3 separate regions of the Homo sapiens genome follow, and regions 1 and 2 are each linked to region 3. Evidence: fine-mapped expression QTL. A gene starts in region 3. Each other region holds a variant in brackets. All regions are shown on one strand. Distances are between the middles of the regions. Region 1 has its middle 27 kb from the start of SERPINB9. Region 2 overlaps MYLK4 (myosin light chain kinase family member 4). Region 3 holds the start of SERPINB6 (serpin family B member 6).

Evidence for each region.
Region 1: its variant is fine-mapped to the expression of SERPINB6 in whole blood (TOPMed, PIP above 0.99).
Region 2: its variant is fine-mapped to the expression of SERPINB6 in whole blood (GTEx, PIP above 0.99).

What each region holds. Positions count from the first base shown.
Region 1 is chr6:2,928,918-2,931,678 of GRCh38, reverse strand. No RefSeq gene overlaps it. Among named protein-coding and RNA genes, the nearest start is that of SERPINB9, 27 kb to the right of the region's middle. RefSeq lists an enhancer at 2,231-2,761. The variant TTTGA/A (reference allele first, on the strand shown) is at 1,550.
Region 2 is chr6:2,743,917-2,746,677 of GRCh38, reverse strand. The region is part of intron 2 of MYLK4 (myosin light chain kinase family member 4); the gene reads left to right. Among named protein-coding and RNA genes, the nearest start is that of MYLK4, 5.6 kb to the left of the region's middle. The variant T/C (reference allele first, on the strand shown) is at 1,622.
Region 3 is chr6:2,970,559-2,973,283 of GRCh38, reverse strand. SERPINB6 (serpin family B member 6) reads left to right here and starts at 1,717. Exons shown (of 7, transcript NM_004568.6): 1 at 1,717-1,751. RefSeq lists an enhancer at 1,412-1,936.

The DNA of each region.
Region 1 (2,761 bases), 42 kb after region 3:
CAGGTATAACTGGGACTGTCCCAGACAAGCCATGCTGTATGGTCATCCTGCTGACATGCCATATTCCAAGAGGAGATGAGGATTAATATTTCCTATTTAATTTTCCTGTCTGCATTGCATGCAGTCAGAGCACCCCAACAAGGAATGGATACATTTAGAAGACAAACAGGCCTCCCTAACTGCCACCCAACTCCTTGTCATTTAATACTTCCAGGTAATACCCCTGGAATTAATAGGGTTTCTCATTCGACAAGGCACTAAGGAGACGCTAATGGCAGCTTCCAGGTGGGATCATGTCCGAAACACATGTTTCTCTCACAAGCTCCTTCAAACAGAAAAATCCGACAAACTAATTAATATGACGCTTTTCGAATTGAGGTCCACCGGGTTCCACACATTCCTGGGTCAGCAAGCATTCTCCAACATTTCTCTTCAGTGGCCTGCTTTCATTTGCTAATGATCTTTGAAAAGAGGGTTGGTTAATTTGATATTTACATTTTTTTTTCTTTTGGAATAGCAAGAATTCCAAATGTAATGACCTGTTCTGTGAAAAGTGGCGATTAGTGGAATACCTAGCAAATATTTTTGAAAAACTGTAATGGATTGCCTTTGTAGGTAAAGATGCATCTTATTGAAAGAGGGTGGAATGATCATTTTAAAACATCTATTTGAAAGTTTTTCTTTCCCTTGTTAAATGATGTTATTGCTACAAAATGATGTTAAAACTCATATACTTATTTTTAACACTTGGAAATGTAATTTTATAACCTTTAAAAAACTCTTCCAAGGGCTGGGCATGGTGGCTCAGGCCTGTAATCCCAGCACTTTGGGAGTCTGAGGGGGGCAGATTGCCTGAGCTGAGGAGTTCGAGACCAGCCTGGGCAACACAGAGAAACCCCGTCTCTACTAAAATACAAAAAATTAGCCCAGCGTGGCAGCATGTGCCTGTAATCCCAGCTACTTGAGAGGCTGAGGCAGGAGAATTGCTTGAACCTGGGAGGCGGACGTTGCAGTGAGCTGAGATCGTGCCATTGCACTCCAGCCTGGGCAACAGAGCGAGACTCCATCTCAAAACAAAAACAAAAACAAACAAAAAACTCTTCCAAAAAGAAGAGGTTTGGTTGGTTTCAAATAATTAAAAATATAAATATATAAAATCTTAAATATTATAATTAGACATAGATTGACAATCAAACATCAAGGCTTAGTAAGCTTTTATCAATGTTTTTATTTTATTTAAATCAACCCATATAATCCCAGTGCTTTGGGAGGCTGAGGTGGGAGGATTGCTTGAGTCCAGGAGTTTGAGCCCGAAGCGAGCTATTGTTAGGGAAGCGGGAGCCCAGGAGAGCCAGAATAACGCCATTTTAAGTTCAGCTTCATCTTGAGACTAATGAGGCACATTCTTTTCCAGTCACCACCCATGGTCATAAGATATTTACACTTAAGGAAACAGCTTAAAGACACCTGCAGGGACACAGTCCTACAGCAACAGAAAGTCAAGATGTCCCAATGCCCATAGCAATATATGCTTTCAAGATAATTATTG[TTTGA/A]GACTCAGTCTTGCTCTGTCGCCCAGGCTGGGGTGCAAGTGGTGTGATCTCAGCTCACTACAACCTCTGCCTCCTGGGTTTCAGCGATTCTCCTGCCTCAGCCTCCCTAGTAGCTGAGACTACAGGCGCGCATCACCACGCCCGGCTAATTTTTGTATTTTTTAGTAGAGACGGGGTTTCACCATCTTGGCCAGGCTGGTTTTGAACTCCTGACCTTGTGATCTGCCTGCCTTGGTCTCCCAAAGTGCTGGGATTACAGGCATGAGCCACCATGCCTGGCTGCTTTCAAGATACTTGTATTTATGCTTTTACGTACATACACACTAAAACTAAAAACAAACAAAAAAACAAAACACAAGGATAGTTTTCTTTAAATCAACAGAATAATAAATTTTGTCATGCCTTCAGCCTACCCACACATAGATGTGGCTTAGCTTAGCTTTTACATAAACAAGACCTGCTACATAAGAAAAACTTAAAGATGAGTTCCTCCTCTTGCTTTCTGAGGACACTGTACTCTGTATCTGAGTAGCTTTCAATAAACAATGTCTTCTCACTGCACCCTGAGACTTGCCTTGAATTTCTTCCTGCATGAGATCCAAGAACCCTCTCCTGGGGTCTGGATCAGGACCTCTTTTTCTAGTAACACTATGATCGCACCACTGCAGTCCAGCCTGGGCCACACACTCTTGTGGGTTTGTGTGTAATTGTGTGTTGTGTATGTGTCCGGGAAATTGACTGTCTTTTTTTAATTAATTTATTTTTTTTTAATGGAGTCTTGCTCTGTCGCCCAGGCTGGAGTACAGTGGTGCGATCTCGGATCACTGCAACCTCCGCCTCCCAGGTTCAAGCAATTCTCCTGCCTCAGCCTCCCAAGCAGCTGGGACTACAGGTGCGCACCAGCTCTGGTGGTGTATTTTCAGTAGAGACAGGGTTTTGTCTTGTTGGCCAGGCTGGTCTTGAACTCCTGACCTCAAGTGATCCACTTGCCTCGGCCTCCCAAAGTGCTGGGATTACAGGCGTGAGCCACCGCGCCCAGCCAAGTGAATGTCTTTTGTGGGCACCAGACAGCGGGATTGGCTCCTCTCAAGTGAGAAATTCCAAAGGAATTTTTGTTTGCATATTGATCAAGCCCAACCAATGGAGACAGGAAGCACCAGCTGGTCCAGCTGCTTCAGTTTGGACACTTGGGGCTTGTTTGTTGCTGC
Region 2 (2,761 bases), 230 kb after region 3:
CGGCTAATCATAGTAGAAACATCCCCTGTGGTGCACTGGAAAGAATGTACTCTGAATTTCAGACTCTGGTGACATGAAAGCTTTGTTCTGGAAGCTTGCAGTGCAGTTTCTTTAGAGTCTGGAACTACTCTCCAGTCCCAATAGGGGAAGAATTTTATATAGATTTAACAACTTATATTTGTTAAAATAGTTTGATAAAACTCAGATTCTTTTTGTTTTCCTGCTCTTAATCAGATTTTTCTATTTCTTTTATTTTTCTTCTACTGAATTCATTTTTAGCCATCTTCCTTCTTTCCTCTATGTTTTACTGAGTTTATGAAACACTTCATAGCCTTCTTTTCTTCCTTCTACTTAAGTAGTTCTTGTTCTTTTAATTTTTCTTTCTTTCTTTTTTTCTTTTTTTCTTTTTTTGAGACGGAGTCTTGCTCTGTCACCCAGGCTGGAGTGCAGTGGTGCGATCTCAGCTCACTGCAACCTCCGTCTCCCAGGTTGAAGCAATTCTCCTGCCTTAGCCTCCTGAGTAGCCGGGATTACAGGCGCACGCAACCACGCCTGACTCATTTTTTTTTATATTTTTTTTTGTATTTTTAGTAGAGACGGGGTTTCACCACATTGGTCAGGCTGGTCTCAAACTCCTGACCTCATGATCCACCTGCCTTGGCCTCCCAAAGTGCTGAGATTACAGGCGTGAGCCACCGTGCCCGGCCTTGTTCTTTTAATTTTTCTTGTTTGTTTGTTTCTTTTTTTTTTTTTGAGACAGCTTCTCACTCTGTCGCCCAGGCTGGATTGCAGTGGTGTGATCTCAGCTCACTGCAGCTTTGACCTCCCTGGCTCAAGTGATTCTCCTGCCTCAGCCTCCCAAGTAGCTGGGACTAGGCATGCACCACCACCCATGGCTACTTTCTGTATTTTTTTGTAGAGACAGGGGTCTCCATGTGTTGCTCAGACTGGTCTTGAACTCCTGTGCTGAAGTGATCCTCCCACCTTGGCCTCCCAGAGTGCTGGAATTACAGGCATGAGCTGCTGTGTGTGGCCTATTTTTCCTACTTTCCTTTTTATTCTGTTTTCTAATGACTTTTCTTATTCTATTATGTTCCAAAGGCTGTTCAAAATCACCTAAATTCTACCTACTGTGTAAAATTTTAAAAGTTTTCAGCAGATAACCATATGCCATAATAAACTAGATCTAAACATACGTACACGGTGTGGTGTTGAAATCAAGTAAAATTTACAAGACCAAATTGGTCTGACTCATATGAGTGATGAGCTCGATAGCTACTGTGTCCATACCATTAAGTTATAAATGATGAACAGGTTTCATAACTATAATTAGTATTATTTTTGTACAGTTGAATCTGGGTTTTTTTTCTTTTGTCAGTTCTCTGTTATCTATATAGTAAATAGCCCTCGTGTTGTATTTCCCCCAGATTTACTTGAATATTTAGTAGGATCTCTGTCTCATATACACCCCCACACCCCTTTGCTTAATGAAACACAAATGTGCCTGGTGATATTCTCAGCCAACCATTCGGCCCTGCGTGCTTCTCACTGCTTTCCTCGGTGTACCACCCCCATCCCTGCTCCTGAGGCCCGGGGTTGTCTGTGCTCTCCTCCTCCTCCG[T/C]TGGTTTTCCCCACCTGCCTGTTCACCCCTAGTTACTCATCCTCCATCCAAAAGGCATGGTCCCAAGTATAAAAGTAGGACACAGGTTGTGAATGCTCACTCTACAAAAATATGTCAGCATAGCCCACCGTTCCACATCCGCGCCTGGAAGACCCCTAAGCAAATCATTTCTGAATTTATCCTAACCCTTGTTGATTTGTGTTTGAAAGCCTTCCTTCATAGGGAATAATTCCTTTTTAAAACCTGGCTTAAGTTCTTCCATATCCCAACCAGGGGGTATCCCAAAGCTGTGGGGGTAGAAACAAGCATGGCCCCAGCAGACTCGGGACCCCACTGTCCCTGGAGTGTTTAAATGCCCGGTACAAATGCTCCCAAGACCAAGCAAAGCAAAATATTTATTAACAGGATGTGCAGAGGGACAGTGGGTTGGAGTAAAGTGTGGATTTTCCTATTTTGATTGCAGTTGGTGGATTTAACACCAGGTGGCATTTCCTGACCATCTGCTGTGAAATTGTACCATCAGCACCATCCGTAATGACTATAACTTAGATCTCAAAATAACAAGGCTGAGGGCAGAGGTTTTGTGATTTTTCAAGTTGCATTTCGCCACCTCCATCCCTGTGCTCCTCACCCTGTAAGGGCAGGAGAAAGCTCCCTGGCAGTGGCCCAGCCTCGGCAGCCAGCAGTTGCCAGATACAGTGGTGCTAATTGTCCTTGAACTGGGAACAAATACGCATTCACAGCGTCGTAAATTATTGCCAGCAGTCTCCCAATGCCCCTACACCTGTTTCAGATCTGTCACACAAGGCCATCGTATTTTTCCTTTTAAAGAGGCAGATTATTTGCTGATCACGTAACTGGAGACGTCCAGTGCAGGACTCTGCAAGAACCCTCTGTAATTCGGTGACACCCACTCCTCAGGGCAGAGCAAAGGGTGACACTGCTTGAGAAGTGCTGGTGCTAGATCAGGGCAGGGAAGGAACATATAAGCCAAGCAACATCCACAGCTGCTCCCAAAGAATGGACTTCACACTCAGAAGAAAAGACGTCTGGGTTGTAGGTAGCGTGTGCCTTCTCTCGTCTTCAGTTCTCTGGTGCTTGATCCGGTTCGTGATGACCCGGGGAGGCCACTGGCAGACT
Region 3 (2,725 bases):
TTCACCATGCTGGCCAGGCTGGTCTCGAACTCCTGACCTCATGATCTGCCTGCCTTGGCCTCCCAAAGTGCTGAGATTACGGGCATGAGCCACTGCGCCCTGCCAAGTAAGTTCTTTAGTGGTGATTTGTGAGATTCTGGTGCATCTATCACCTTAGCAGTATACACTGAACTCAAATTTGTAGCCTTTTATCCCTCACTCCCTTCCCACCCTTTTCCCCCAAGTCCCCAAAGTCCATTGTATCATTCTTATGCCTTTGTATCCTCATAGTTTAGGTCCTACTTATGAGTGAGAACATACAATGTTTGGTTTTCCATTCCTGAGTTACTTCACTTAGAACAACAGTCTCCAATCCCATCCAGGTTGCCAATGCCATTAATTCATTCCTTTTTATGGCTGAGTAGCATTCCACCGTATACGCATACCACAGTTTCTTTATCCACTCTTTGATTGATGGGCATTTGGGTTGGTTTCATGTTTTTGCAATTACGAATTGTGCTGCTATTAACATGCGTGTGCAAGTATCTTTTTTGTATAATGACTTATTTTCCTCTGCGTAGATACCCAGTAGTGGGATTGCTGGATCAAATGGTAGTTCTATTTTTAGTTATTTAAGGAATCGCCATACTATTTTCCACAGTGGTTGTACTATCCATCAGCAGTGTAGAGGTGTTCCCTCTTCACCAAATCCACGCCAACATCTATTATTTTTTGAGTTTTTGATTTTTTGATTAAGGCCACTCTTGCGGGAGTAAGGTGGTATCACATTGTGGTTTTGATTTGCATTTCCCTAATCATTAGTGATGTTGAGCATTTTTTCTTGTTTGTTGGCCATTTGCATATCCTCTTTTGAGAACTGTCTATTCATGCCAGCCCACTTTTTGATGGGATTTTTTTTTCTTGCTAATTTGTTTGAGTTTCTTGTAGATTCTGGATATTACTGCTTTGTCGGATGTATAGATTGTGAAGATTTTCTCCCACTCTGTAGGTTGTCTGTTTACTCTGCTTGACTATTCCTTTTGCTTTGCAAAAGCTATTTAGTCTACTTTTTTTTTTTTTTTTTTTTTTTTTTTTTTTGAGACGGACCAGACTGGAGTGCGGTGGCGCCATCTCGGCTCACTGCAGCCTCTGCCTCCCGGGTTCAAGTGATTCTCCTGCCTCAGCTTCCCCAGCAACTGAGATTACAGGCACGCGCCATTACACTCGGCTAATTTTTGTATTTTTAGTAGAGACGGGGTTTTGCCATGTTGGCCAGGCTGGTCTGGAACTCCTGACCTCCAGTGATCCGCCTGCCTCGGCCTCCCAGTGTTGGGATTACTGGCGTGAGCCCCGCGCCCGCCCCTGGCTGGCTTCTTTGCCGCAAGCTGTTTCATCAGCAAAGTCTTTGTGACCTGTATCTAGTCTGCTCATTTTTAAATGCGTGTTCTGCACTCCCCAGTGGATGGCCGTGTATCAGGAGCCGGCCCTTTTCTGGAAACAGGCCAGCATTCAGTCTCCACAGAGGCACCATAAACACGCTGGTGGGGCCCTGTACTGTGGTCAAAGTCAAGGCCTCCGGGCAGGACTCGCGGCCCCTCCGGCTGGCGGGTGGGGTTGACCCGCACGTCCCGCCCCGCCTCTCCCTTCGCGCTCCGGACGGGCGACGGTAGCTCGAGACCCGGGACTCCGCCCGCCTCCCCGCGAGTATTTGAGGTCCGGGGCGGCTCCGGCGCCTCTGCCCGCCGTTCTGCTCGCTCGCTCCCCGCTCTGGAGTACGTGTCTGGCTTGGGAGCCGCTCGGACACGCTGGCTTGGGTTTGTCGCTCCAAAGTCGGGAAAGCCGGGGGCGCGAGCGGGGAGGGGGGCAGGGTGGGGGTCGCGCGGGGCCGGGAACGCGCGTGGGTCGACGGCGCGCGGGGACGCTGGAGCCCCGAGAATGGGGCGTGGCCGCGCGGGGCTGTGACCCCAGCAGTCCCAGCGGGGCGGGGGCCCGGGCGAGCGTCCGGCTTGGGTTCCCTTCCGGAGCCTCGCAGCGGCAGAGAACGGCGACGCGGCCGGGTGAGTCGTGCGTGGCCGCGAGCCCGGCCGGTGACGCCGCGGACCCGAGGACCCCGGGCGCCCAGGCCCAGCGCCCACGGAAGAGGCGGCCGGCGCGGGATGGGGGCGGCGCAGAGCCTCCCGGGCCACAGGTGACCCCGGTCGGCCCCGCGGCCTCGGTGACCCCTCGCCCGCTCCGCGACCCGGAGGACGCGTGCTCAGTCTTGGGGCGCCGGGTGTTAGGAGCCGGGCGGGAGGCGGAGAGAGGCCGAGGGGTTCGGCGCCAAACGGTGCCATCCGGGCCCCCTGCGTGTGTTCACTGGACTGGCCGTGCTGGGCTTGGCCAATCCGCAGCACTTTCAGGTCGCCCAGACCTGTGGAGACGATCGTGTGGACCAGCCCGGATCTCCTTACCGCTCTGTGTTTGAATTAAACTCCCTACAGGCAAACTATTACAGGCTTTGATGTCTTCAAGGCAAAGAGGAAACTTTAACTACAAATTGGCATTTAAGTTATTTTCTTCCTTTTTTTTTTTTTTTTTTTTGTCCTAAAGATTGGCTTCGGAAAACTGAGGTACAGAAAATTAATAATTAATGTTCACATGCTGTCAGGAATACTCAGATGCGAGGGGGCATCTGAGTCCATTTTTTGGGCACTTTTGCTTTCTGGGATGCTCTCGTGCCTAATGACAGCCCTGCAGCTGCCTGCAT